Homo sapiens: one gene and its partners. The protein of the gene in region 5 purifies or fractionates together with the protein of the main gene of each other region. This does not show direct contact. Each region holds a gene or a part of one and is shown on either strand. Other genes may lie near its edges. The genes, in order: TMPO, SUCLG2, ZNF207, HEXB, ABCE1, GNA11 and MMS19.

Evidence for each region.
Region 1: the proteins of ABCE1 (region 5) and TMPO purify together in Homo sapiens (affinity purification with mass spectrometry, with the first as the bait; one study listed by BioGRID). This does not show direct contact.
Region 2: the proteins of ABCE1 (region 5) and SUCLG2 purify together in Homo sapiens (affinity purification with mass spectrometry; 2 studies listed by BioGRID). This does not show direct contact.
Region 3: the proteins of ABCE1 (region 5) and ZNF207 purify together in Homo sapiens (affinity purification with mass spectrometry, with the first as the bait; one study listed by BioGRID). This does not show direct contact.
Region 4: the proteins of ABCE1 (region 5) and HEXB purify together in Homo sapiens (affinity purification with mass spectrometry; 2 studies listed by BioGRID). This does not show direct contact.
Region 6: the proteins of ABCE1 (region 5) and GNA11 purify together in Homo sapiens (affinity purification with mass spectrometry, with the first as the bait; one study listed by BioGRID). This does not show direct contact.
Region 7: the proteins of ABCE1 (region 5) and MMS19 purify together in Homo sapiens (affinity purification with mass spectrometry; 2 studies listed by BioGRID). This does not show direct contact.

What each region holds. Positions count from the first base shown.
Region 1 is NC_000012.12:98,546,590-98,550,851, reverse strand, and holds the end of TMPO (thymopoietin), read right to left. Parts: intron 3,280-4,262; coding exon 2,994-3,279; 3' UTR 501-2,993; downstream 1-500. UniProt on the Homo sapiens protein: May help direct the assembly of the nuclear lamina and thereby help maintain the structural organization of the nuclear envelope. Possible receptor for attachment of lamin filaments to the inner nuclear membrane.
Region 2 is NC_000003.12:67,529,113-67,532,612, forward strand, and holds part of SUCLG2 (succinate--CoA ligase [GDP-forming] subunit beta, mitochondrial isoform 2 precursor), read right to left. Parts: intron 75-3,500; coding exon 1-74. UniProt on the Homo sapiens protein: GTP-specific succinyl-CoA synthetase functions in the citric acid cycle (TCA), coupling the hydrolysis of succinyl-CoA to the synthesis of GTP and thus represents the only step of substrate-level phosphorylation in the TCA.
Region 3 is NC_000017.11:32,353,157-32,356,656, reverse strand, and holds part of ZNF207 (BUB3-interacting and GLEBS motif-containing protein ZNF207), read right to left. Parts: intron 1-3,500. UniProt on the Homo sapiens protein: Kinetochore- and microtubule-binding protein that plays a key role in spindle assembly. ZNF207/BuGZ is mainly composed of disordered low-complexity regions and undergoes phase transition or coacervation to form temperature-dependent liquid droplets.
Region 4 is NC_000005.10:74,709,233-74,712,732, reverse strand, and holds part of HEXB (beta-hexosaminidase subunit beta isoform 1 preproprotein), read right to left. Parts: intron 1-3,500. UniProt on the Homo sapiens protein: Hydrolyzes the non-reducing end N-acetyl-D-hexosamine and/or sulfated N-acetyl-D-hexosamine of glycoconjugates, such as the oligosaccharide moieties from proteins and neutral glycolipids, or from certain mucopolysaccharides.
Region 5 is NC_000004.12:145,118,811-145,122,310, forward strand, and holds part of ABCE1 (ATP-binding cassette sub-family E member 1), read left to right. Parts: intron 1-1,121; coding exon 1,122-1,343; intron 1,344-2,363; coding exon 2,364-2,423; intron 2,424-2,522; coding exon 2,523-2,581; intron 2,582-3,500. UniProt on the Homo sapiens protein: Nucleoside-triphosphatase (NTPase) involved in ribosome recycling by mediating ribosome disassembly. Able to hydrolyze ATP, GTP, UTP and CTP. Splits ribosomes into free 60S subunits and tRNA- and mRNA-bound 40S subunits.
Region 6 is NC_000019.10:3,111,362-3,114,861, reverse strand, and holds part of GNA11 (guanine nucleotide-binding protein subunit alpha-11), read right to left. Parts: intron 1,533-3,500; coding exon 1,378-1,532; intron 1-1,377. UniProt on the Homo sapiens protein: Guanine nucleotide-binding proteins (G proteins) function as transducers downstream of G protein-coupled receptors (GPCRs) in numerous signaling cascades.
Region 7 is NC_000010.11:97,457,824-97,460,422, forward strand, and holds the end of MMS19 (MMS19 nucleotide excision repair protein homolog), read right to left. Parts: intron 2,410-2,599; coding exon 2,223-2,409; intron 1,919-2,222; coding exon 1,836-1,918; intron 1,704-1,835; coding exon 1,539-1,703; intron 1,460-1,538; coding exon 1,400-1,459; intron 1,078-1,399; coding exon 977-1,077; intron 897-976; coding exon 869-896; 3' UTR 501-868; downstream 1-500. UniProt on the Homo sapiens protein: Key component of the cytosolic iron-sulfur protein assembly (CIA) complex, a multiprotein complex that mediates the incorporation of iron-sulfur cluster into apoproteins specifically involved in DNA metabolism and genomic integrity.

The DNA of each region.
Region 1 (4,262 bases), on a different chromosome or scaffold from region 5:
TTGAGTGAATCAATACATATTAAGCACATAGAAAAGTACCTAGCACATGGTAAGCATGCAATAAAACTTGTTGTTTTAAGCCTTTGATGCGATTTGCCTTATAATTAATTATGGTGTCTATACTACCTTGAGAAACACTAATTTAAGTCAAATCACCTCTGGGGACACATGAATGAGGAAGACATAATGGCACTTTCATCTTGTGAGCACAGCTCCATGACGTATCACAGTGACACGGGCTTAGTCTCAAAGCAAGACTAACAATCATAAGGGTCATAGGTAAATACTAAAGACAGTAAAAGTGGTGGGAAAAAGGAACTAGGTGTGGGAGAGGTGCCTTGGAGCGCTTAATGTCATTCTGTGAGTACAGTAGCTACACATTGCTTACCTTTGAATAAACGAGAACCCGATTACAATAAGAAGTAAAACATATGAACAGACTGAAATAAAACACAATAATCCATAAATATCACATAAGAAATGTTATCCAGAAATCACAGTTTGTGCTATCTGAAAACCATTTATTGCAACGACAAAACTAGAGGTTAATTACTTTTTATTATTGAATTATATTGTAAAGTCTACATCTACAATTTAATCAGGAAGAAATGCTTTGCATTTACATCAAGGACACATTTATTCTAATGGAATAAAACAGACACACACAAAAGACCAAGTACATGTTTTTAAAAAATGACTACATGTTTCACCTGGTCCTATTTTTGCTATTTGGACCATACTTTTAAGTGAATTGATCTTACATACATGTTAAGTCTGATTTATCTCCCCACATTTTTAAACACTAAATGAAGCTTCTCACAATTTCTAATTATAAACAAAAGGCTGAAAACAGTATGGGAAACAAAGTTTCAAAACAAAGAAAAGTTGAGTAAAAGGTGCCCCCTCTATGGCTCATCTGAAAGAAACATTTTACTCAGAGAGGCAAACATTTCTGATCTAGGAGTAAGTTTCCCACTCACTTTGCAAGGACCCACTCATTCTGCAGAAAGACCTACAAGTCTTTCTGGTCTCAATTGCAAAGTACGTGAAAATGTGTATGAAAGATCTAAAAGCTAAATATTAGAATAAGGCTAATTGAAATCAAAATTGTGTGCTGGTCTAAATATACATCTTCGGCTTCTTCCTTTTTAGTAAGTATTTTTATTTCAGATGTATTTAAAAATAACTTACATTTTTAGTGTGCTTTATGGTCAATGACTGTAAAGTTGAAACTCAAATGAGTCAGTTTAAAATTTTTGTCTCATTTGATTCTATTGAAATTTTAATCACCTACTACTTTAATCAAGTTATTCATGAGGTAAGTTTCAGCTTAAAAAAAAAAATCATCCACAAAGATAACCATTTCAAGAGTACACAAAATCATAATGCCGGCCGGGTGCAGTGGATCACACCTGTAATCCCAGCACTTTGGGAAGCTGAGGTGGGCTGATCACTTGAGGTCAGGGGTTCGAGACCAGCCTGGCCAACATGGTGAAACCCCGTCTCTGCCGAGGCAGGAAAATTGCTTGAACCTGGGAGGCAGAGGTTGCATCGAGCCCAGATCGTGCCACTGCACTACAGTCTGGGTGACAAGAGTGAGACTCCATCTCATAAAAAATAAAAAAATAAAAAATAATCATAATGCCCACCTCTTAAGAGTATACAACTTTATTAACTACTGCTTATGATGTAATATAAAAGCAAGTACTTTTTGTACTTTTTTATTTTTTTTGAGATGGAGTCTTGCTCTGTCGCCAGGCTACAGTGCAGTGACGTAATCTCTGCTCACTGCAACCTCTGCCTCCTGGGTTCAAACGATTCTCCTGCCTCAGTCTCCCTAGTAGACAGGACTACAGGCGCACATCATCACGCCCAGCTAATTTTTTTGTATTTTTAGTAGAGACGGGGTTTCACCATGTTGGCCAGGATGGTCTTGATCTCTTGACCTCGTGATCCACCCGCCCTGGCCTCCCAAAGTGCTGGGATTACAGGCGTAAGCCACCGCGCCTGGCCCTTTTTGTACTTTCTAATCAAATTATGCTGGGAAATATAGGGCAAAAAAAGCTCGGCAAAATTTGTTTCTGGTAACAAGACAATGCAATAATGAATCCAAATGAAACATAAGACCAGTGTTTACAATTTCTAACTTCTAAACAAACATACACACACTTATCTAAAACATATTTTGGTAGCAAACTGGATGACTGAATAAATGTTTTGCTGTAAATAAAAAATACAAATTTCCAATTATAGCCTTATAGCTAGCTAAACAGCTTTTCAAAACATGTACAGCTAGCCAACAATTCTCTAAAATATGTATGTTACACTAAAAGATCTCTGCTAAAAATCTACTGTATGTAAATGGGTCTTACTGAAATAGGACTTTCATGATACTGTGTCTTAAAAAGTGAGTATGATAGGGCTACAACAACATTACTATTAATAAAGGTTACAGAAGAGATTATTGCTGTACTTTTCCTCATAAACACCATCAAACTTTGTTGCAGTTACAAAAAGTACAACCAAGTTACTTTTCCTCTTACTGAATTTCATTATGTTTCACATATTTGCAGTTTTTATTCAGCAGAGAATAATTCTTAAAATCTTTTCTGTAAGAATTCTAAGTATTTAAATGTGTAGCTTCACATTATACTACCATGTTTCACCCTTCGTTTCCCAAATACACAAAAAACATATACATTTTTTCAAAAATGAAATAAGATGCCCACATTAAAAAAATAAAGCCTACAAAAAGTTCCAGAGCTAAAAAAGATTATTCATATGGCACAAAGTGATCTCCTACTAGTCCAAAGTTCAAAAACATTTTAATGAAGTCCATTTATATATATTTTGTTTGCTTTTCAATGAAATACTACATTTATTGAGGCGAAATCACATTATTTTTAGTTCTTGGAGTCAACAAGTGTACACAAATGTTTTTCAACAGTTATTGAAAATAGGAGACCAAGTTGAACGTGCCAAAGAGATACCATTCAGTTGGATTTTCTAGGGTCAACATGAAGAAAATTAGAGAAGGGATTTACTTGGTTGGTTTCCATAGCTTGATAGACCAAAAACAAAAAAACTGCCACAACAACAAACAGCAAAATTTTTATCCATACGGGAATGGAGCGTCCCTTTTTTGTCTTTTCTGACTTGACATCTGCCAAGGGAACATACTTAGGAACATATTTAGATGAAAAAGACTCCTCCATCCTGAAATCACTGAGTTCTAATGGCCGGCCTGCAGCCCCTTTGATTGGTCTGCGGCAACTAGCACTGTTGGGAGTGAAAGGAGGAAAAGAAAAATAATTTTAGATAAAGGCATGATTTAGAGAAATAACATAAAATGTCATTGCCACTCCTAATTCCAAGCACATTCCCTGAGGTAACAGTAGAAAATTGATACATATAAAGCAGTGAGGTCAGTCAACCTATTTAAAACTTCTACATATTTTCTATTTTAAAAGTTAGATGGGCTGGGCATGGTGGCTCGCGCCTGCAATCCCAGCACTTTGGGAGGCCAAGGCGGGCAGATCACCTGAGGTCAGGAGTTCAAGACTAGCCTGGCCAACATGGTGAAACTCTGTCTCTACAAAAATACAAAAATTAGCCGGGCATGATGGTGGGTGCCTGTAATCCCAGCTACTCAGGAGGCTGAGGCAGGAGAATCGCTTGAACCCAGGAGGTGGAGGTTGTAGTGAGCCGAGATCACGCCACTGTACTCCAGCCTGGGCAACAGAGCAAAACTCCGTCTCAAAAAAAAAAAAAAAGTTCGATGCATCCTTTATTAGAAAAGAATATTCAGAACACTGATAAATAGTCACTAAACCTGCCTTCTTAAAGGCTCTTCAAAGCTCATGTTTAGGAGTAAAGAGGAAAAACAAAACAGTTTTGGCTGTGTTTCTTTCAGTTAAAAATTAAGATACATAAACACAGCCTTTTCAATTAGAAAAGAGAAACTTAGGGGGGAAAAACTATTTCTCACTAGATTTTCGTTTAGATTTTAACATATGAATTTAAGTAGTAAGTAAGTGATTTATTTAAAATCCTCCATTTACCAATCGCAATTTTGAAACTCATTCAACTTTCAAGAATATTTACTGGTGGGCTTAGGGGAATTAAACTGCTCCCAAAAGAACAGTTCGTTCACTTATTTATTTAAAAGTCGGTGGGTAGACAGAGTCTCATTATGTTGCCCAGACTGGTCTCGAACTCCTGGGCTTAAGCAATCCACCTGCCTTAGTCTCTTGAGTAGCTGG
Region 2 (3,500 bases), on a different chromosome or scaffold from region 5:
CAAACCACTATTGAAGACACCTTTTCCTCTTCCTCCAGCTAAGATCTGGGCTTTTAAAACAATTTCTTTTGCATCTGAAAAAGAAAAATCCAGAGTTGGTAGCTGATTTTAAATTCTTTTTTTGTTTTTTAAGCAATAAGGAAAGCAATAATGGCACATAACTTCCAAGTAACTGGTAAAAGCTCTCTCAAACTAACTTTGAAAATAAATGCAATGAAGAACTTCAAAAAAACATCTATGAGCCTAAATACAAAGCTTGTTTACTGAGGATATTCAAATGCTTCCTACCAGTTTAATCATCTAATACTTGACCTTCCCAAGGGAAAGCAAGACATGTGTTCCCTTGCTCTTTTGAGTGTGTCAGAAGAAGCTAAATAAATCCTGGAAGGAGGTATTAATTTTACTGTGTAATGGCACTCCCATGTGGCAGAGGCACCAGTTGGCCAGTAAGAGGAGCTAACCATCAGAGATGTCAAAGGGAAGACTGGATTATGCGGGGGAAGGTTTAAAGACAAGACACAAAGGTCATAGTTAATAACTGCATTATTGGAAACCAACAGTTTTCTGAGCAGTTGTTCTATATACTGATAGGGTTGGGAAAGGGAGGAGGAAATGGATTAAAACTAAAAGCAAGCAATATTTTAAAATCATTGGCAAGGTAACAAAATATCCTGGGGGAAAGTGGTTGTGGAATCTTTGTTTCTCATCACACTCCACGAATGAAAGAACTCTCTAATCTTGACTTTTTAGACGAGAGTTATTAACACAAATATCTTCCCTTGCAGGGAAGTTGGGTGCATGAAGTAGCCCAGTGACAAATGGGGCCTTTAGCAAACAGGGTAGCTCCCCTCCCCAACCACCAAAACAAAACAAAACAACAACAAACAAAAAACTGCCTCCAAATCAAATATGTTTAATAAACCAAATAGCACACAACTGCAGACCACAGCTGATATCCTCTGTTTGTGAGTCATCTTTATTTAAAATCACAGAACCCAGCTGATCCCCTATAAGGCCATGAGAGTATTCTGGTTCAGTATACCAGATTTAGAATCTGCAAACCCAGGTTTCAATCTGGCCTTCATCCCTCACCCAGCTGTGTGACATTAGGCAAGTTACTTAATGTCTCTGAAACTCGGTTTATTCAACTGTGAAATGATGACAAGGGTTGTTTTAAAAATTAAATGAACACACATGAATGCTTTATCCCAGAGCCTGAAAACTTGTGATTAATTAAAAACTATTGCCTCGACCAGTTAGTTCATTTATTACCTTTGTATATTGTAAAGAATGAAAGGAATCATTACAGAGATGGCTAAACCAAAAAACTAACAAGCGCTCCATTAAGTTTGGTTATTTCAGCTATTACTGTCACTGTCATCATCATTGTTACCCACAGGCAAGCAGGTAAAGGTTCAAACGGAAAGAGCTGTGGAAGGTTTTATCATCAAGGCAATGGGGAGCTACAGAAGTATTTTACAGAAGGCATTCAGCCAGCTGATGTCACACCATTGAGGCTCCTTCACTGCCTTCATTGGTTAGTCTTCTTGTCTCCTATATTTGCTTACACTCAGAAAGCTGAAGCCCACCTTCTTCTCAGAAGCAAACACAGTTTTTTCTTAGAAGGCTGTCCTGTGTACCCTCTGGCAATAATTTCTGCCCTGGATACGAACCATCACAACATTGGTCAAGCCCTGTCTTATAATAAACTGGTTTCCATCAAGCTGAGTAGAAGACAAATTAATTGTCAGAAACTCACAAGGAAAGCAACCAAGTAAAATGAATACATTGCATATTTAGCTTACTGCAAGAACAGTAGTAAGAGCAAGGATATTGGAGTTAAACAGACCTGGTTAAAATCTCCAACTCTACCTATCACTTTCTTTGTAGAGAAGAAACAACTGAGATTCAGAAAGGTAAAAGTAGCATGCCCTTCTGTAAAGTAGTCATATTAAAGAAGTCTACAGTGTAAGGATGATGTGAAGAATAAATGAAATACAGTAAAGTGCCTGGCACATTTTTTTAAAGTCAAAATATGATAGCTATCAACATTATAATAATTTTCAGCAATTAAGAAAAAATGGCACACAGGAAGACATTTCCTGTTTTTCTTTGGAAGACATCAAGTGGAAAAAATACTTTTTGCTGTCTACTCAAATTTTTAATTGTGATCACTTCAAATTCTTTACATAACTGGCATTCCATTGCCATTATCATTTTTCATATCCTTGTCATCCTGAAGAGATGCTTTCCTCTCTGAGCTTTCCAGCAGCAAAACTTGAAAGCCAGAGAGAATACCTAATTGGGCATTGTTAATTGGCACTACATAGGCTTGATTAGATCAGCTTTAGTCACTAACCATCAAGACACAGAAAGAGTTGTATCCTCAATGAAGTGTTGTCAATTAAACGTGTCGCCATTTGACCTCCAGTCAAAGTATTCCATGCAAAACAGTGTTGGTAGAACAAGCAACCAGTTCAGAGACTATGAAACCAGAGATCAGGACAAATAGAAAAAGACAACAACCTACGCACATCTGCAACATACACCCCAGGCCAAAAATGAGTTCACTAAAATCATCTCTTCTGATTACATCTCAAGTGCTAAATCAATATAGTAAGTCAGCAAGTCAGCAGCCCAAAGTAAAGCAAGTTTTTCTCATCTTGAGAAAAACTCTCATGAAGTAATTTAATTCAAGGCTTATTTACTCAAGGTGCTGAAAATTAAGATGACAAATCCCACTCAACAGTAACTCGTCTCTTCATTCAGTATTTACCAAATTGATTCACATGTACTAAATGTCACTGTTTCTATTTATTTAAAGATCTGATCTCTCCCAAAACTCAAATTTCTGTTTTTATTTAACATTGCCTCTTGCCCCAATCCTGAACGGTATTAGAAAAGAAAAAAAAATCCCATATATGAAATGCAATTTTTGTCTGAATAAGACGACTTAACCATCCTTTAGAAAAACAAGCTAAAAGGACAGAGGAAAAAATTAACTCTAATATGAGTTGGGGTTTTATTTTTGTTTTTTGTTTTAGACAGAGTCTCACTTTGTCACCCAGGCTGGAGTGCAGTGGTGTGATCTTGGCCCACTGCAACCTCTGCCTCCCGGGTTCAAGCGGTTCTCCTGCCTCAGCCTTCTGAGTAGCTGGGGTTACAGGCACATGCCACCATGCCCAGCTAATTTTTTGTATTTTTAGCAGAGATGAGGTTTCCCATGTTGCTCCAGCTGGTCTCAAACTCCTGAGCTCAGGCAATCTGCCCACCTCAGCCTCCCAAAGTGCTAGGATTACAGGCATAAAATAGATTTTATATAGAAGTAGACAACAACCTAGACATTGATAATTATATTATTGGACTCTGAGTTGGTATAACTTGGGTCTGGATAACTCCAAAGTCTTTGCTCTTAATTGCTATTTTTATACGCAGTAGCCTAAGTATGCAACGTCTTCACTAAATTTTGTTCCTTTCTTAGTGAGTTTCTGAAAATAACC
Region 3 (3,500 bases), on a different chromosome or scaffold from region 5:
ATTTAGGCTAATGACTTAGATATATTTGCCCAAATAATACTCATTTTTTCTTTCCTCCTAAGACATTTTCATGTACGAACAGAAAAGTAACTACAAAAAGCTAAGTATTTTCTTCTTAGCAATGTATCTCACTTAAAGATTTGAAACTGGGGCATGCAAATCAAACTCAGAAATTATCTTAATATCTGATTGTTAAAAGCTATTCCTTATATTGCAATTAAAATATTTATGGATAAAGCGGCTTAACAAGTGACTTAATTGCCGTTTCCTAAGGTTTTTTGGAATATTTTGCTATTCTTAATAAAGAGATGATGCAACAGGCATTCTATAAACAATTACATTCACATACACACTAATCTTCACTACATTTTTGAGAAGGGCAACAATTAAAGGTGTATCTATTATGGTACAGCCAGAATTAGATTTCTTGGGACCCTGCCAAGCAAAGTCATAGCGTCTTGGTTGAAAAGACAGGAGCAAGCACTGATGAGAAACTGCAGGGAACCACCTAACTTACTAATAATGTCTTAGGGTTTATCATCTATAAAATTGGTATGATTTAACTGCCAGGTCTATCTCACAGGTTGCTGTGAAAATAGGACTAAATAAAGGCACTCAGACAATAATGTTACTAAGTTTCTCAACTAACCTTGAAGCTTCCACTCCACTTCTCTGCTCTTCATAAAGTGCAACTCCCTAAGAATGCCTTCGCTTCCTCTCCCTGTCTCTTCAAAGCACCGTAATCACACTTCACCCTCACCACTCTTGGAAATCGCTCTTTGTCAAGTCACCAATGACCTTATTAACCCAGTCTCAGTACTCTTACTGAACCAGCATTTGACTCAGTTAAATAACTCACTCCTTGAAACACGTCATTGACTTCCAGGGCACTACTCTTGGTTTTCCTACCTTTCATCTCCTTAGACGATTCCTTTTAATCTCCTGACCTTCAAATGTTGGAAGTGGCCTAGAGCAGAGAGCACCTAATTTCCAACCACACTACAGTCCTTACAAAGGACATCTGGTAGCGCGGCTTAAACTAGCCACCCTTACATTGTATGCGTCCAAATTTCTATCTCCTGTTTTAATTTCTATGAACTCCTGACTTGTACATCAAACTGCTTCGGTAACCTTTTCATCTGGATATTTAATAGACCTCAAACATACCTACACTCAAAATTAACACAGGACTCCCTTATTCTCATTCTTAAGCCTATTATCCCTGTAGCTTTTCACATCTCGTCATATGCTCAAAATAAACATTTTTGAGACAGGGTTTCACTCTTGTAGCCCAAGTTGGAGCTGAGTAGTGCTATCACGGCTCACTGCAGTCTCGTCCTCCCCAGCTCAAGCGATCCTCCTGCCTCAGCCTCCTGAGTAGCTGGGACACAGGCACGTGCCACCATGCCCAACTTTGCATTTTTTGTAGAGACAGGGTCTCATTATATTGCCCAGGCTAGTCTCGAACTATTAGGATCAAGTGATTAGTCCATCTCGGCCTACCAAAGTGCTGATTACAGGCGTGAGCCACCGCACCTAGCCAGACCATCTTGAGATCAACATCTTGAGACCACCCTTAACTCCTCACTTTTTCTTATACCCCATATCTAACCTATCAAACTCTGGTCTCTGTCACCATCTCCTCTTGTCTGGAATATTCTAAGTCTTCTAAAGTGGTCTCACCGTACTCTGCACTTTACTTTCAACCCTGCAGCCAGAAAAATCCTTTTAAAAAGTCTTACAGGCTGGGCGCAGTGGCTCACGCCTGTAATCCCAGCACTTTGGGAGGCCAAGGAAGGTGGATCAGGAGGTCAGGAGTTCAAGACCAGCCTGGCCAAGATGGTGAAACCCCATCTGTACTAAAAATACAAAACAATTAGCTAGGCACAATGGCAGGCGTCTGTAATCCCAGCTACTCGAGAGGCTGAGGCAGGAGAATTGCTTGAACCCGGAGGGCAGAGGCTGCGGTGAGCCGAGATCACGCCCACTGCACTCCAGCCTGGACGAAAGAGACTCCGTCTCAAGAAAAAAAAAAAAGTCTAATAGAGGCCAGCTGCAGTGACTTATGCCTGTAATCCCAGCACTTTGGGAGGCCAAAGTAGATGGGATCACTTGAGGCCAGGAGTTCAAGACCACCCTGGCCAACGTGGTGAAGCCCCATCTCTACTAAAAATACAACTCAGGCAGGCACGGTGGTGCATGCCTGTAATCCTAGCTATTTGGAAGGCTGATGCACAAGAATCACTTAAGCCCAGGAGGCGGAGGCTGCAGTGAGCACAAGACAGAGCAAAACTCCGTTTCAAAATAAAACAAAAAAAAAACTGACAGAGCATACATCTCTATTTAAACCCCTATTTCATTCAGAATTAAAGAAAATGGCCGGGCTCAGTGGCTCACAACTGTAATTCCAGCACTTTGGGAGGCCGAGTGGGAGAATCGATTGATCCTGGGAGTTGGGCGACCAGCCTGTGCAACATAGTGAGACCCTGTCTCTACAAAAATAAAATTTTAAAAATAGCCAGGTATGGTGGTACACAATTGTTGTCCCAGGTACTCAGGAGGCTAAGGTGGAAGGATCATTTGAGTAAGGGAGTTCAAAGTTGCGGTGAGCTATGATCTGCACTCCAGCCTGGACAACAGAATGAGACCCTGTCAATCAATCAAAACAAAATGTTCTTATCCACACTACCCAATATAAGTTAGCTACTTGACAGAGAAACTGAGCATTTAGATATTTATATCATTTTAAATAGCCACATGTAACTAATGGCTGCAACAGTGAACAGCTGTGAGTCTAACATGTAGTAGGTTCTCTAACAATTTTTTTTTTTTTTTTTTTTTTTTTGGAGACAGAGTCTCTGTCACCCAGGCTGGAGTGCAGTGGCACAAACTCAGCTCACCGCAAACTCTGCCTCCCGGGTTCAAGTGATTCTCCTGTCTCAGCACCCGCCTCGCGCCCCCCGCCCCCAGCCCTCCCCCCGCCCCCGTAGCCAGGACTACATGTGCCTGCCACCATGCCCAGCTAATTTTTGGTATTTGTAGAGATGGGGTTTCACCACGTTGGTCAGGCTGGTCTTGAAACCCTGACCTCAGGTGATCCACCAGCCTCGGCCTCCCAAAGTGCTGGGATTACAGGCGTGAGCCACCACATCTGGTCAACATTTTAAAATGAATATTAAATTATTGTTAAAGTATCTGGAGTGAAAAGGATCTATATAAATTTATCTTTAAACCTGGAGAAATCACGTCTCCCTACCTCCCACCCATAGTAGTTTCCAATGATTTGGTATTTGCTCATCTCATATTTCTGTAAGGTCTAATTTAGCAAAAATTCAGACAGCTCTAGGACTAAGCAAAGTAGAATAATGTTGAATGAGACATGAAGGTACTTACTAGATCTTAAAAAATATAAATTACAATGCTCTCGCTATTTATTAAAAGAACTTTAAAAACCTAGAAATTATTGTCATTATTATTATTATTGAGACAGAGTCTCACCC
Region 4 (3,500 bases), on a different chromosome or scaffold from region 5:
TTATAGTAAATACAGGGACATATTAATTGACACTGTGGGGTGCAATCAGCAAAACCCAGACTGTGGGAAACTGTAGGACACATGACTCAGTTTCTTCAACAACAATTACAGGAGAAAAAGGTGGGAAGAGCAGACCTGTAGATCAAAAAAGAATTACTAGACATATTAACTCACCACAATTATGGAGCTTATTTGTATCCCACTGCAAATGTTTTAAAATAATTTTTTAAATAAGAGAAAAAGACAGTTGGAGAAATGTGAATTTTTTTTTAAAATTTAAAGCATTTCTTTTTTTTATTATTATCATACTTTAAGTTTTAGGGTACATGTGCACAATGTGCAGGTTAGTTACGTATGTATACATGTGCCATGCTGGTGCGCTGCACCCACTAACTCGTCATCTAGCATTAGGTATATCTCCCAATGCTATCCCTCCCCCCTCCCCCACCCCACAACAGTCCCCAGTGTGTGATGTTCCCCTTCCTGTGTCCATGTGTTCTCATTGTTCAATTCCCACCTATGAGTGAGAATATGCGGTGTTTGGCTTTTTGTTCTTGTGATAGTTTACTGAGAATGATGATTTCCAATTTCATCCATGTCCCTACAAAGGACATGAACTCATCATTTTTTATGGCTGCATAGTATTCCATGGTGTATATGTGCCACATTTTCTTAATCCAGTCTATCATTGTTGGACATTTGGGTTGGTTCCAAGTCTTTGCTATTGTGAATAGTGCCACAATAAACATACGTGTGCATGTGTCTTTACAGCAGCATGATTTATAGTCCTTTGGGTATATACCCAGTAATGGGATGGCTGGGTCAAATGGTATTTCTAGTTCTAGATCCCTGAGGAATCGCCACACTGACTTCCACAATGGTTGAACTAGTTTACAGTCCCAACAGTGTAAAAGTGTTCCTATTTCTCCACATCCTCTCCAGCACCTGTTGTTTCCTGACTTTTTAATGATTGCCATTCTAAATGGTGTGAGATGGTATCTCATTGTGGTTTTGATTTGCATTTCTCTGACGGCCAGTGATGATGAGCATTTTTTCATGTGTTTTTTGTCTGCATAAATGTCTTCTTTTGAGAAGTGTCTGTTCATGTCCTTCACCCACTTTTTGATGGGGTTGTTTGTTTTTTTCTTGTAAATTTGTTTGTGTTCATTGTAGATTCTGGATATTTCCTTTGTCAGATGAGTAGGTTGCGAAAATTTTCTCCCATATTGTGGGTTGCCTGTTCACTCTGATGGTAGTTTCTTTTCCTGTGCAGAAGCTCTTTAGTTTAATTAGATCCCATTTGTCAATTTTGGCTTTTGTTGCCATTGCTTTTGGTGTTTTAGACATGAAGTCCTTGCCCATGCCTATGTCCTGAATGGTAATGCCTAGGTTTTCTTCTAGGGTTTTTATGGTTTTAGGTCTAACGTTTAAGTCTTTAATCCATCTTGAATTGATTTTTGTATAAGGTGTAAGGAAGGGATCCAGTTTCAGCTTTCTACATATGGCTAGCCAGTTTTCCCAGCACCATTTATTAAATAGGGAATCCTTTCCCCATTGCTTGTTTTTCTCAGGTTTGTCAAACATCAGATAGTTGTAGATATGCAGCGTTATTTCTGAGGGCTCTGTTCTGTTCCATTGATCTATATCTCTGTTTTGGTACCAGTACCATGCTGTTTTGGTTACTGTAGCCTTGTAGTATAGTTTGAAGTCAGGTAGCGTGATGCCTCCAGCTTTGTTCTTTTGGCTTAGGATTGACTTGGTAATGTGGGCTCTTTTTTGGTTCCATATGAACTTTCAAGTAGTTTTTTCCAATTCTGTGAAGAAAGTCATTGGTAGCTTGATGGGGATGGCATTGAATCTATAAATTACCTTGGGCAGTATGGCCATTTTCATGATATTGATTCTTCCTACCCATGAGCATGGAATTTTCTTCCATTTGTTTGTATCCTCTTTTATTTCATTGAGCAGTGGTTTGTAGTTCTCCTTGAAGAGGTCCTTCACATCCCTTGTAAGTTGGATTCCTAGGTATTTTATTCTCTTTGAAGCAATTGTGAATGGGAGTTCACTCATGATTTGGCTGTTTGTCTGTTATTGGTGTATAAGAATGCTTGTGATTTTTGCACATTGATTTTGTATCCTGAGACTTTGCTGAATTTGCTTATCAGCTTAAGGAGATTTTGGGCTGAGACAATGGGGTTTTCTAGATATACAATCATGTCATCTGCAAACAGGGACAATTTGACTTCCTCTTTTCCTAATTGAATACCTTTTATTTCCTTCTCCTGCCTAATTGCCCTGGCCAGAACTTCCAACACTATGTTGAACAGGAGTGGTGAGAGGGGGCATCCCTGTCTTGTGCCAGGTTTCAAAGGGAATGCTTCTAGTTTTTGCCCATTCAGTATGATATTGGCTGGGGGTTTGTCATAGATAGCTCTTATTATTTTGAGATATGTCCCATCAATACCTAATTTATTGAGAGTTTTTAGCATGAAGGGTTGTTGAATTTTGTCAAAGGCCTTTTCTGCATCCATTGAGATAATCATGTGGTTTTTGTCTTTGGTTCTGTTTATATGCTGGATTACATTTATTGATTTACGTATATTGAACCAGGCTTGCGTCCCAGGGATGAAGCCCACTTGATCATGGTGGATAAGCTTTTTGATGTGCTGCTGGATTTGGTTTGCCAGTATTTTATTGAGGATTTTTGCATCAATGTTCATCATGGATATTGGTCTAAAATTCTCTTTTTTGGTTGTGTCTCTGCCCGGCTTTGGTATCAGGATGATGCTGGCCTCATAAAATGAGTTAGGGAGGATTCCCTCTTTTTCTATTGATTGGAATAGTTTCAGAAGGAATGGTACCAGTTCCTCCTTGTACCTCTGGTAGAATTCGGCTGTGAATCCATCTGGTCCTGGACTCTTTGGTTGATAAGCTATTGATTATTGCCACAATTTCAGCTCCTGTTATTGGTCTATTCAGAGATTCAACTTCTTCCTGGTTTAGTCTTGGGAGAGTATATGTGTGGAGGAATTTATCCATTTCTTCTAGATTTTCTAGTTTATTTGCATAGAGGTGTTTGTAGTATTCTCTGATGGTAGTTTGTATTTCTGTGGGATTGGTGGTGATATCCCCTTTATCATTTTTTATTGCGTCTATTTGATTCTTCTCTCTTTTTTTATTAGTCTTGCTAGCGTTCTATCAATTTTGTTGATCCTTTCAAAAAACCAGCTTCTGGATTCATTAATTTTTTGAAGGGTTTTTTGTGTGTCTATTTCCTTCAGTTCTGCTTTGATTTTAGTTATTTCTTGCCTTCTGCTAGCTTTTGAATGTGTTTGCTCTTGCTTTTCTAGTTCTTTTAATTGTGATGTTAGGGTGTCAATTTTGGATCTTTCCTGCTTTCTCTTGTGGGCATTTAGTGCTATAAATTTCCCTCTACACACTGCTTTGAATGTGTCCCAGAGATTCTGGTATGTTGTGTCTTTGTTCTTGTTGGTTTCAAA
Region 5 (3,500 bases):
AAGGTGATTATGGTTTGAACTCATTTTTAAATTGACAAGACAAACATTGAAGTAGGACTGTAAAGACTGACTTGCTGTGTTTTTTTTAAACGAAGTCACTTAGTTCTTTGAGCCTTTATTTTCCAAAATAAGTTAGGTATTTGAACCAAGTGGCTGCTAAGGTTCCTTTGAGTTTATGTTTTTATGTAATTGTTTTTATTTAATTTTTTAACTTCACATTTATAGGTTTTAGATAGTTTAAGATCAAAAAACATGCTGATTTTGGCAAAATAAATGTAATCTGTTCATTTGTTCTGTCAGCAAAGATGTATTGAACACCTGTGTTCTAGGATGAGGATACAGGCTGCATGATGTGTCTCTCAGTTCCAAATAAAATGAATAACGTCAAGACCTTCCAAGAAACTTCAGCTTTCTCTTCACTTAAATATAGGAAACACTGAAATATGGATTATTCATTGTTTCTCAAATACGCTTTTCATTTCAGTGTGTCTGCCATTGTAGATCTTAAAATTTTATTACAGAGGGTTCTTGTATACAATGTGGATTTAAGTTATTAAAATCTGTTTAGATAATGGTTGTTATCTTTGTACAGTGAAGCCATTAAAAAAATGTTAACTGGAATTAGCTCATATTCAATTTCATATGAACCTGCAGGATTAATTTTTTTAAAGCAATAAATTATAACCTCAAAATATGTGCTTATGTCTCATATGAAATTAAATATTGATAACATTGTATATTAAAAAATTTATCCCCCAAACTTTTATATCAATATTACATCAATCTGAAAATACTCTTACATATTTGTCATTTTCGCTTTAAAGATAAAGCAAAAAGGACATCATGTGCTCTCTTTTGCATAAAACCTGATGGAAAAAGTAATTACAGGATAATGAGAAGATGTACTTCATGTGGTTGGGGGGGACATGCATATATATTCATGAATTATTTAAACTTACATTAAATATATATAGTTTTTTAAGTTACTTCTTTATATGCAGACCAACATGTTAGCAAAAATCCACAGAAATTTAAAGTATATAGTCTATAGATTGCTCCCAAGAGAGCTTAGGATTTTGGCTCTAATGATTTCTCCCGGTTGACAATTTTCTTCCCAACAGGCATAAACATTTTTTTGGATGGCTATGTTCCAACAGAAAACTTGAGATTCAGAGATGCATCACTTGTTTTTAAAGTGGCTGAGACAGCAAATGAAGAAGAAGTTAAAAAGATGTGTATGTATAAATATCCAGGAATGAAGAAAAAAATGGGAGAATTTGAGCTAGCAATTGTAGCTGGAGAGTTTACAGATTCTGAAATTATGGTGATGCTGGGGGAAAATGGTAAGTTTTCTGTTTTGTGATAAGTAAAAATCTTCCTGTTTATCTAGTAAATTAGTTTTAACTGTTTTGTGGAAAAATTTGAATCATATGTTATAGGGCTAGAAGCAGAGTTTTATTTAAACCCACAAATTTCTTAGTGTACTTTCACATTTTTTTGGCATTGTGTAATTCAATTTCACTGTAATTCAATCAGGTTAATAGTTCTTATTTTGTTTTATAACCTCTAGTGAAAATAAGGTGTTCTTTGTCAGCTGGTTTTTTACATGTAAATTGATAAGGCAGTTATTAATCTTATAAATTGACTAAGATGGAAAGGATAAATGGTGATTCAGAAATAATCCAGCTTTAAAAATTTTTTCCTCATACACTTCAATGTGGAACTTTTCTTATTTTAAATTCAGAGCAATCTACCTTTGTAAATAATTGTATTACCAGCATATATTTCATAATAAATTGTCATAAGTGTAGATATAAGATGAATTTGACTACTAAATATGTGATATTGCCTTCATGATTTAAGAACTATTTGAATTGTAATCTTACAGCTTACAAAACTATAGAAGATAAATTTTATATAAAGATTGTTACAATGTATCAGTCTTTAGATAATGGGAATTTTGAATTGGGTTGCAATTAATTTAAATATTTTATATAAGTAAACTTTAAAATTACAGTTATCTTTCATAAAACAGTCTATACTGTCTTAATAAATTGTGTGCCCTGATAATTTAGCTAAGTAGATCTTTTCAAACTATTGCAGGATTTAAACTTTATAGACATACCATTTATTAAAATTGTCATAAGCTTTGACTAGTCTTTATTCCTCTTAATTACCTTAGAATGACACTTCAGAGGTGAGCCATGAAAGACTTAAGTATTTTTCTATATAAACTTCAGAATTCAATAATGTCAGTGTATATCTTTAAAACAAATTTCTCAGTTAAAACCAAATAGGACATAGTGATTTACTTTAAACGTCAAGCATCTTTCAGATCAAACTGTCATATGTTGTGTTGCCAGGAACGGGTAAAACGACATTTATCAGAATGCTTGCTGGAAGACTTAAACCTGATGAAGGAGGTACATTTGTAACTGTTGAGTCTTTTTACTCTGTTTTACACAGTAAACTTTAAAGATCTGGGCAGTTTTTAGTGTCTTATGTATTTCATTATTTTGCAGGAGAAGTACCAGTTCTAAATGTCAGTTATAAGCCACAGAAAATTAGTCCCAAATCAACTGTGAGTTATTATTTTTTATATGGTTACTAAAGAAAATTTTGTATATATGCCTATAGCTTTCATCTTTTACTATATTAAAATTTTTCTCCAAATTAGATTCTATACAGTTTTATTGATAGTTGCAAACAAATGTATTAAGAGTCCAATCCTTGATTCATATCCACTGCTAAGAAAGTGCTTTAAAGATATTTGTCATCTTTGGCCGGGTGCAGTAGCTCACGCCTGTAATGCCAACACTTCGGGAGGCCTAGGCCAGCAGATCACGAGGTCAGGAGATCGAGACCATCCTGGCTAACATGGTGAAACCCTGTCTCTACTAAAACTACAAAAAACTAGCCGAGCGTGGTGGCAGCGCCTGTAGTCCCAGCTACTCAGGAGGCTGAGGCAGGAGAATGGCGTGAACCTGGGAGGCAGAGCTTGCAGTGAGTGGAGATTGCATCACTACACTCTAGCCTGGGCGACAAAGCGAGAGTCTGTCTCAAAAAAAAATAAAAAAATAAAGATGTTTGTCATCTTTTTGCTAAATAAATAATTAAAAACCTAATGTATTTTGTGCTGCAAATTGACAACAGCAAGAAGGTGAAAAGGCTTTACCCACAAGATGGGAGAAACATTTGCACATCATATATCCAATAAAGGACTTGTATCCAGCATGTATAAAGAACTCTTATAATTAAAAATGAGCAAATGTCTTTTAGTTATTCAGCCATAAAAAGAAATGAAATATTAACAAATGCCACAGTCCTTGAAACCATTCTGTTAAAGTTAACCTCCTTTGATTTCTGCGGGTGTTGTAATGAACTCCTCAGTACCTCAACATTCAATTTATGTTTTGTCTACTTGGCTTAGCTTACCATAAAAGTTTTGTCATTGATGCTCTCTATAAGCTTAGCTTTAAATTCTAAAATTCAGCCTTATC
Region 6 (3,500 bases), on a different chromosome or scaffold from region 5:
GACGGAAAGCCACCAGGAGGGGGTGGACCGCGCACTGCGCCACCTACGGCAGTGTCTGAAGCAGCCCGGAGGGCTCGGGCCAATGGAGACCCTGGGGTCGGGATACGAGCCTCCCAACCTCTATCCTCTCTGGGGTCTCAGGGGACAGAAATGACCCAGCACAAGAGAAAGTCCCAGGACGAGGACTCCAGCTGGTTCGGGGGGTTTGTAGTAGAGCTGTCCAGAGACGGCCACCAAGGAGGGAGACGGTGACCCAGGGCAGGGGACTTCCCGAGAGAGGCCTGGCTGGCCCCAGGGATGAGGCTTCACAAACAAGCGCATCATTAGGAGAGTCGCAGCTGCAGAGGCTGCAGAGGTCCCAGCAGATCCCCGTGCCCGTCTCCCTGCTGCTCCCTGTACGTGGGTGCGGCACCCACCACGAGCAATGAGCCAGTGTCTACACAGCGCAGCTACTGAAGTCCACGCTTGATTCCGGCTTCCTTGGTTCCCCTCATGCCTTTTCCTGCCCAGCCCTCTGGGTTGGGACAGTTTCCCGTTTTTGACGCCCTGGGCAGTCCTGAGTGGGGCGCCCCTCGAGTGGTCTGCCTGGGGTGGGGGTTGTAAGAGGCCGGGTGCCTGCTCAGACCTTTCCGGCACCGCGAGGAGGCCCTGGCGTTTTGTTCCAAGTGCTTGGTTATCTGGGCCCTCCCACAACCTCCCAGAGGCAGGGAACACACAGAGGACGGGCAGGAGGGGCGGGGGACAGGCCTGTCCCTGTCGCCTTAGGGTCTCTCCCGGTGCTGGGGGAGGGCCGGGGCCTCTGCCTGCCAAGCATGGAGGGCAGCAGTGCACAGCCTGCCACGCGGGGGCCTCCACCTGCGGCCATGGCCCGGCCACCTGTCAGCACACAAGTCACCCCCTATCCCAGGCCCAGAGACTGGGAGAACCCTGACATCAGTCAAGGTCACAGCCAGTCACTAGTGGGAGACGTGGCTCTGGGGACGATGTCCCAGGCAGGAGCGAGACGGCCCAGGTTGTGTCTACCTCCCATCCCACGGCCCTCCTAGGAGACCCTGGGTTTCCCCCACAGGCCACAGGCCGGGCTCCAGCACCGAGGGTGGCCAGGAGCTCACTCCTGACCCAGGGAGGGCAGCGGCAGGGCCAGGCATACAAGCAGGCCAGTGTCACACCAGAGTCCACCGGCTCCTGCCAAGGCGTGGCCCCTCCAGGGATCTGCTCTGGTCCCTCCATCCGGCCAGGTGGCCCGGGCCCACCGCATCCCTGCCCCCGGCGAGCAGGCAGGGGGCACCACAGACGCCGCGGAGGCCTTCCCGAAGGGTCCCAGGCACCGGCCCGCAGCTGCCGTCCCCAGGCCGCCAGCGGTGCGGCCGCACTTACTACTTGGCAGAGTCGGAGAGCTGGTACTCGCGCCTGCGGTCGTAGCATTCCTGGATGCCCGGGTCCTCCCACAGGGTCTTGATGGCACTGACGTACTGATGCTCGAAGGTGGTCACCTTCTCCACGTCCACCTCCCGGATCAGGAGCGCATTGGCCTGCGAGGGCGGGCAGGGGAGACGTCGAGAGCTCGCTGGGGCCACACATCCACCAGAAAGCTTGTGACGGCCCCTCTTCCAGGCCTCGGCTGGCCCGGGCGGCATTCCGCAGGCTGTGCAGTCAGGACCACTGACAGTTCCGTGTGAACACGTGTCAGAAAAACGCGAGGCCGCCTGGCGGTGTGGTTCCTCCGAACAAGGCCCCACAAGCAAAGCCTCCCGGCGGTGCGGTCTGCAGGGTGCCGGGGAGGCCGGGCTTCGATTCACTTCTTAGAGGTGGGGAGGGGACGGTGTGGGGAACAAGCACGTGTAGAACACACACACTTCAAACCCAGGACCCACAGGAGGGCAGTGCAGCGCCGAGCACGACCAAGCACGACGACAGAACTAACCAACAGCCCCAGCACTCGCTGCCTCGAATTCTCCAGACACACCGGGAGGCAGGAAGCCCAGTCACAGGACGTTGCAACCAGCGGCATCGCCTGCAGTGTGCAGCTCCAGACTCGGTTTCTGCCCCGCCGGCTTCTCTCTTTCGTCCGAAAAATGCTTATCAAACATCATCAAGAGCAGATACCACACCCGGTGCTAAGGACGGCGTGTGGCCCCCGAGCTGCCGCACTCAACAGTTTACATGGTGCCCCAACACGAGCCGCCTCCCCCTCACGGAACCCTGGGCGGCGGGTGGCATCAGGCCCCAGCTTGCTGCCCTGTCACAAAGGAAGGCCAACCGCACAGACACGTGCTTGCACACACATGTGAACACCCTTTGGGGCAGACACTGTGGGGGGGCCATCCTTTCCCCTCCTGATGCTCTGTGTCCCCGTCCCCGGGGCGCACAGGCCGACATGACCAGCCACAGTTTGGCTGAGGGACTGGGGAGGGGACATACTGGGTGGGACCCAGATGGGAAAGAAGGGAGCCTTGCCCTGGGCTCTGGGAGCCACGGGGCCCTCCCAGGCCCCCCAGAGTGGAGACTCAGCCCTTGCTTGTCCCCTCTGAGCAACGCTCCCTGCCCCGGACTCCGACTTCAGCCCTCCCCTTGCCCTGCCCCCAGCCTCTCAATCTGGGCTGGGATAAGCACACCTAGGGGGACTTGGAAAAAGAGACACAAACCCCAAAAATCCCACTCCCTGGAAACTTCCAGATTAGACAGCAGCAATCTGCTTCTGCAGAGAGCCAGAGAGCACACCCAGCCTTCCCGACCACACGGACTGTCTCCAGCACTCGGCTCTGCTGCTGCTGCTGAAGCACCATGGGCAACATGGCAGAAATGGGTATGTGCCAATAAAACTTTATCGACAAAATCAGTCTGCAGTTTGCAGATGCGTGTTTCAGAAGCTGATGGAGATCTAAGCCCAAATATGAATATGGACTCTCAGAGAGGGCCACAGCTGGAAGAGATCACAGCGGGAGACAGGGCAAGTGGCAAACCAAGATCTAAGGGCAAGAGCCCTACCCCTGAAAGCAGGGCTACGAAAGCGGGATCAATGGCCCCTCAGCTGAAAGGCCCCAGGGAGGCCACTGGCAGGAGCCACGGCTGCACGGCTGCTGGGCCTGCCCCATAGGGCGGCCACTGGGGCAAACTCTCTGGACGCTTCTCAGAGGGCAAAGCCAGAGTCACCCTGGGACCCAGCAATTCTGCTCCCAGGCGTAGCATGCAACTGAGGGAAGGGAACACATCATCCACATAAACACACGTCCACAGACGGTCACGGCAGCTCCGTTCCCAACAGCCCACACATGAAGGCACTCAAATGTCCTCCAGGGGATAAATGGGCAAATACGCGGTCCCTCCATGCACTGGAACATGACTCAGCCATGAACAGGGACGAGGCTCTGACACAGGCCACTGTGTGGATGCACCTTGAGGACGTCACACTCAGTGAGAGACGCCGGACACAAAAGGCCACATGGCGTGCAATCCCATTTCTATGAAATGTTCAGGACAGACCGATCCACAGAGGCAGG
Region 7 (2,599 bases), on a different chromosome or scaffold from region 5:
CTCCCAAAGTGCTGGGATTACAAGCTTTACAGGCGTGAGCCACCGCGCCCGGCTCAAGTGATTCTTGTGTCTCAGCCTCCCAAGTAGCTGTGATTAAAGGCGTATGCCACCACACCTGGCTAATTTTTGTATTTTTAGTGGAGATGGGGTTTCACCATGTTGGCCAGTCTGGTCTTGAACTCCTGACCTCCACTGATCCATGCGCCTCGGCCTCCCAAAATGCTGGGATTACAGGCGTCAGCCACCATGCCCAGCTTAATTTTTTTTTTTTTTTAATTATTTGTAGAGATGGGTTCTTGCTATACTGCCAGGGCTAGTCTCAAACTCCTAGCCTCAAGTGATCCGCCTGCCTCAGCCTCCTGAAGTGTTGGGGTTACAGGCATGTGCTACTGTCCTGGTTACCCTGAAAAATTTTTGGCCAATCCCTGTCATTGTTATTCCAGTGATGCCTCTGGTTATATGAGGCATATGTGGGGTGGGGGAAATATCTGACAGCCCCATTACCAAAAGAAATCTTTATTCTTCAGCAGGTAGACAACATCTGCCAGCCCTGGTCCTCAGGGCCACACTCATATGCACTCACCCCTCAGCAGCATATCGCCCCTTTTCTGACATATAAATGCAAGAGACCCAGGACCCTAGATCTTTCTTCAAACGCAAGTGTCTCACACACACTTATTTTACAAATCCACTAGAAATATGGACTCTTATGTTCTTTGTACAGCCATGCAACAGAGGCCTAGCATTTGTGCTGTGTCTGTGGGAAAGGCAGTCAGAGACCAGTGGTTTCCCTGCTTTGGGGAAGATGGCTCAACAGTTAGTAATCCCAGGTTAGATTGTCAGAACAGTCTAGGCCAGGACTGAGGGCTCAGCTGCCAGGGCTCCCCAACAGAAACCTGTAGGCAAAAAGAAAGTTGGCAGCATTAGTGATGAGGCTCATCTTGGTCCCATCTCTCCCCACGACCTAGAAACTCACCACTCCCCTCTGGCTGACACTGCTTCCTTGCGCACCAGTCTCTTCTTGTCATCCAGGGGTTTGGCTAAGGCCCGAATCACCTGTGGTTTGTACGGCAGCAGCTGTGGAGTCAGAGGATATAATCAACCTTGCTCATCCAAGGCAACTGAAAGTACCGCTTTTTTGATTCTGTACAACTAATATTCTGAGGAAAGCAAAACATCTTTAGTGATTCCAAGGGATGTTAAGTGGCAGGATGGCCTTTCTGTTACCTTCTGGGCCCAAGGAAAAGAATCCTTGGGCCCAGAATTACAAGATCTGTACCTTGTAATTCAGATCTCAATTACACACCAGGGTGGCCAAGCCCACCTGACTAAGGCAAAAAGGTACTTATGTGTCTCTTGAGATGTTCCCAGGCCAGGGAAGGACACCTGAGGTACTTACCACAGGGGTGGGCAGGCGAGTGAGAGCATGCATGCACTGCAGTGCGGCGATCCGGACAGCCTGGAACACAACCACAAGGAGGTGAGAGCATGCCCAGGGAGAGATGCTGGTGCCTAAGAGTTGCTGGGGCTCAACGCACCATGGAAGGGCTAGAGCTGAGGTTCAGAAACTTGGTGACGAGGGTGTCCACGTGAAGACTCATGACTTGGGGTGCTTCCAGTAGAAGAGGCTGAAGGCAGCTGAGGGTGGAGAGCTGCACCACACAGTCAGGGCAGGACAGGGCCTCCAGCAGCAAGGAAAGAAGCTAAGGGGCAATGGGCAAGGTAGGGGATGGCCACATCATGAAGATCCTGGTTCTTGTTCCCTCCCCTTTCTAGCCCCATCTGGGGAAGAATAGCTTTGTCCTTTGCTTAGAAGCTCTGCCTGTGGGACTTACCGTGGGCAGCTCTGGCAAGAGTACAGGCTTGGGCAGCCTGTTAAGTACATGAGAAAGACCCTTCAAGTAGTTTGGCTTCACATCTGTAAAAAATGGAAAGGCTTAGGGGAGAAATTGGACTTAGATATATAGCTTGAGAAATCAATTCCAATCTGTGGTGAGGCTGAGACATCAGCCTACAAACGGGTGAAAGAGCCCTTCACGCTCAGAATAAGCAAGATACGCCCATGAAAGGAAGAAGTGGGACAAGAATCTAGAAGTTTAGTCTTCTAGGCACAGACCACAATATAGCTCTAAAGAAGCAAGCGGGCCCTAAATTATCTTAGGGAATGTGGCCAAGCAAAGGAGAGATGTGTATATGTGGGGACCTTCTTTCAGACTCCTCACCTTGGGGAGCAGCATGGAAGCCCTGGACCAAAGCAGGCACATTATCTGTGAAGAACCGCTGGCGGAACATGATCCGCACTTCGGCATGGCCAGCACGAGTCAGCACATCAGTGCAGTCAGACATGAGCAGAGAGAAGCCATCAGCTGCTGCTGGACCTAATTCTGGGTCACTCAGGAGGCCCATGAGCTGGAGAAAAAAGAGCCTTTGAGGTACATCAGGGAAGAAGAATCTTAAGTGCCAAAGATAAGGATGGGGCCGGGTGTGGTGGCTCATGCCTGTAATCCTAGCACTTTGGGAGGCCAAGGCAGGTGGACTGCTTGAGTCTAGGAGTCTGGGCAACATGGCCAAACCCAGTTCTTACAAAAAATACAAACAT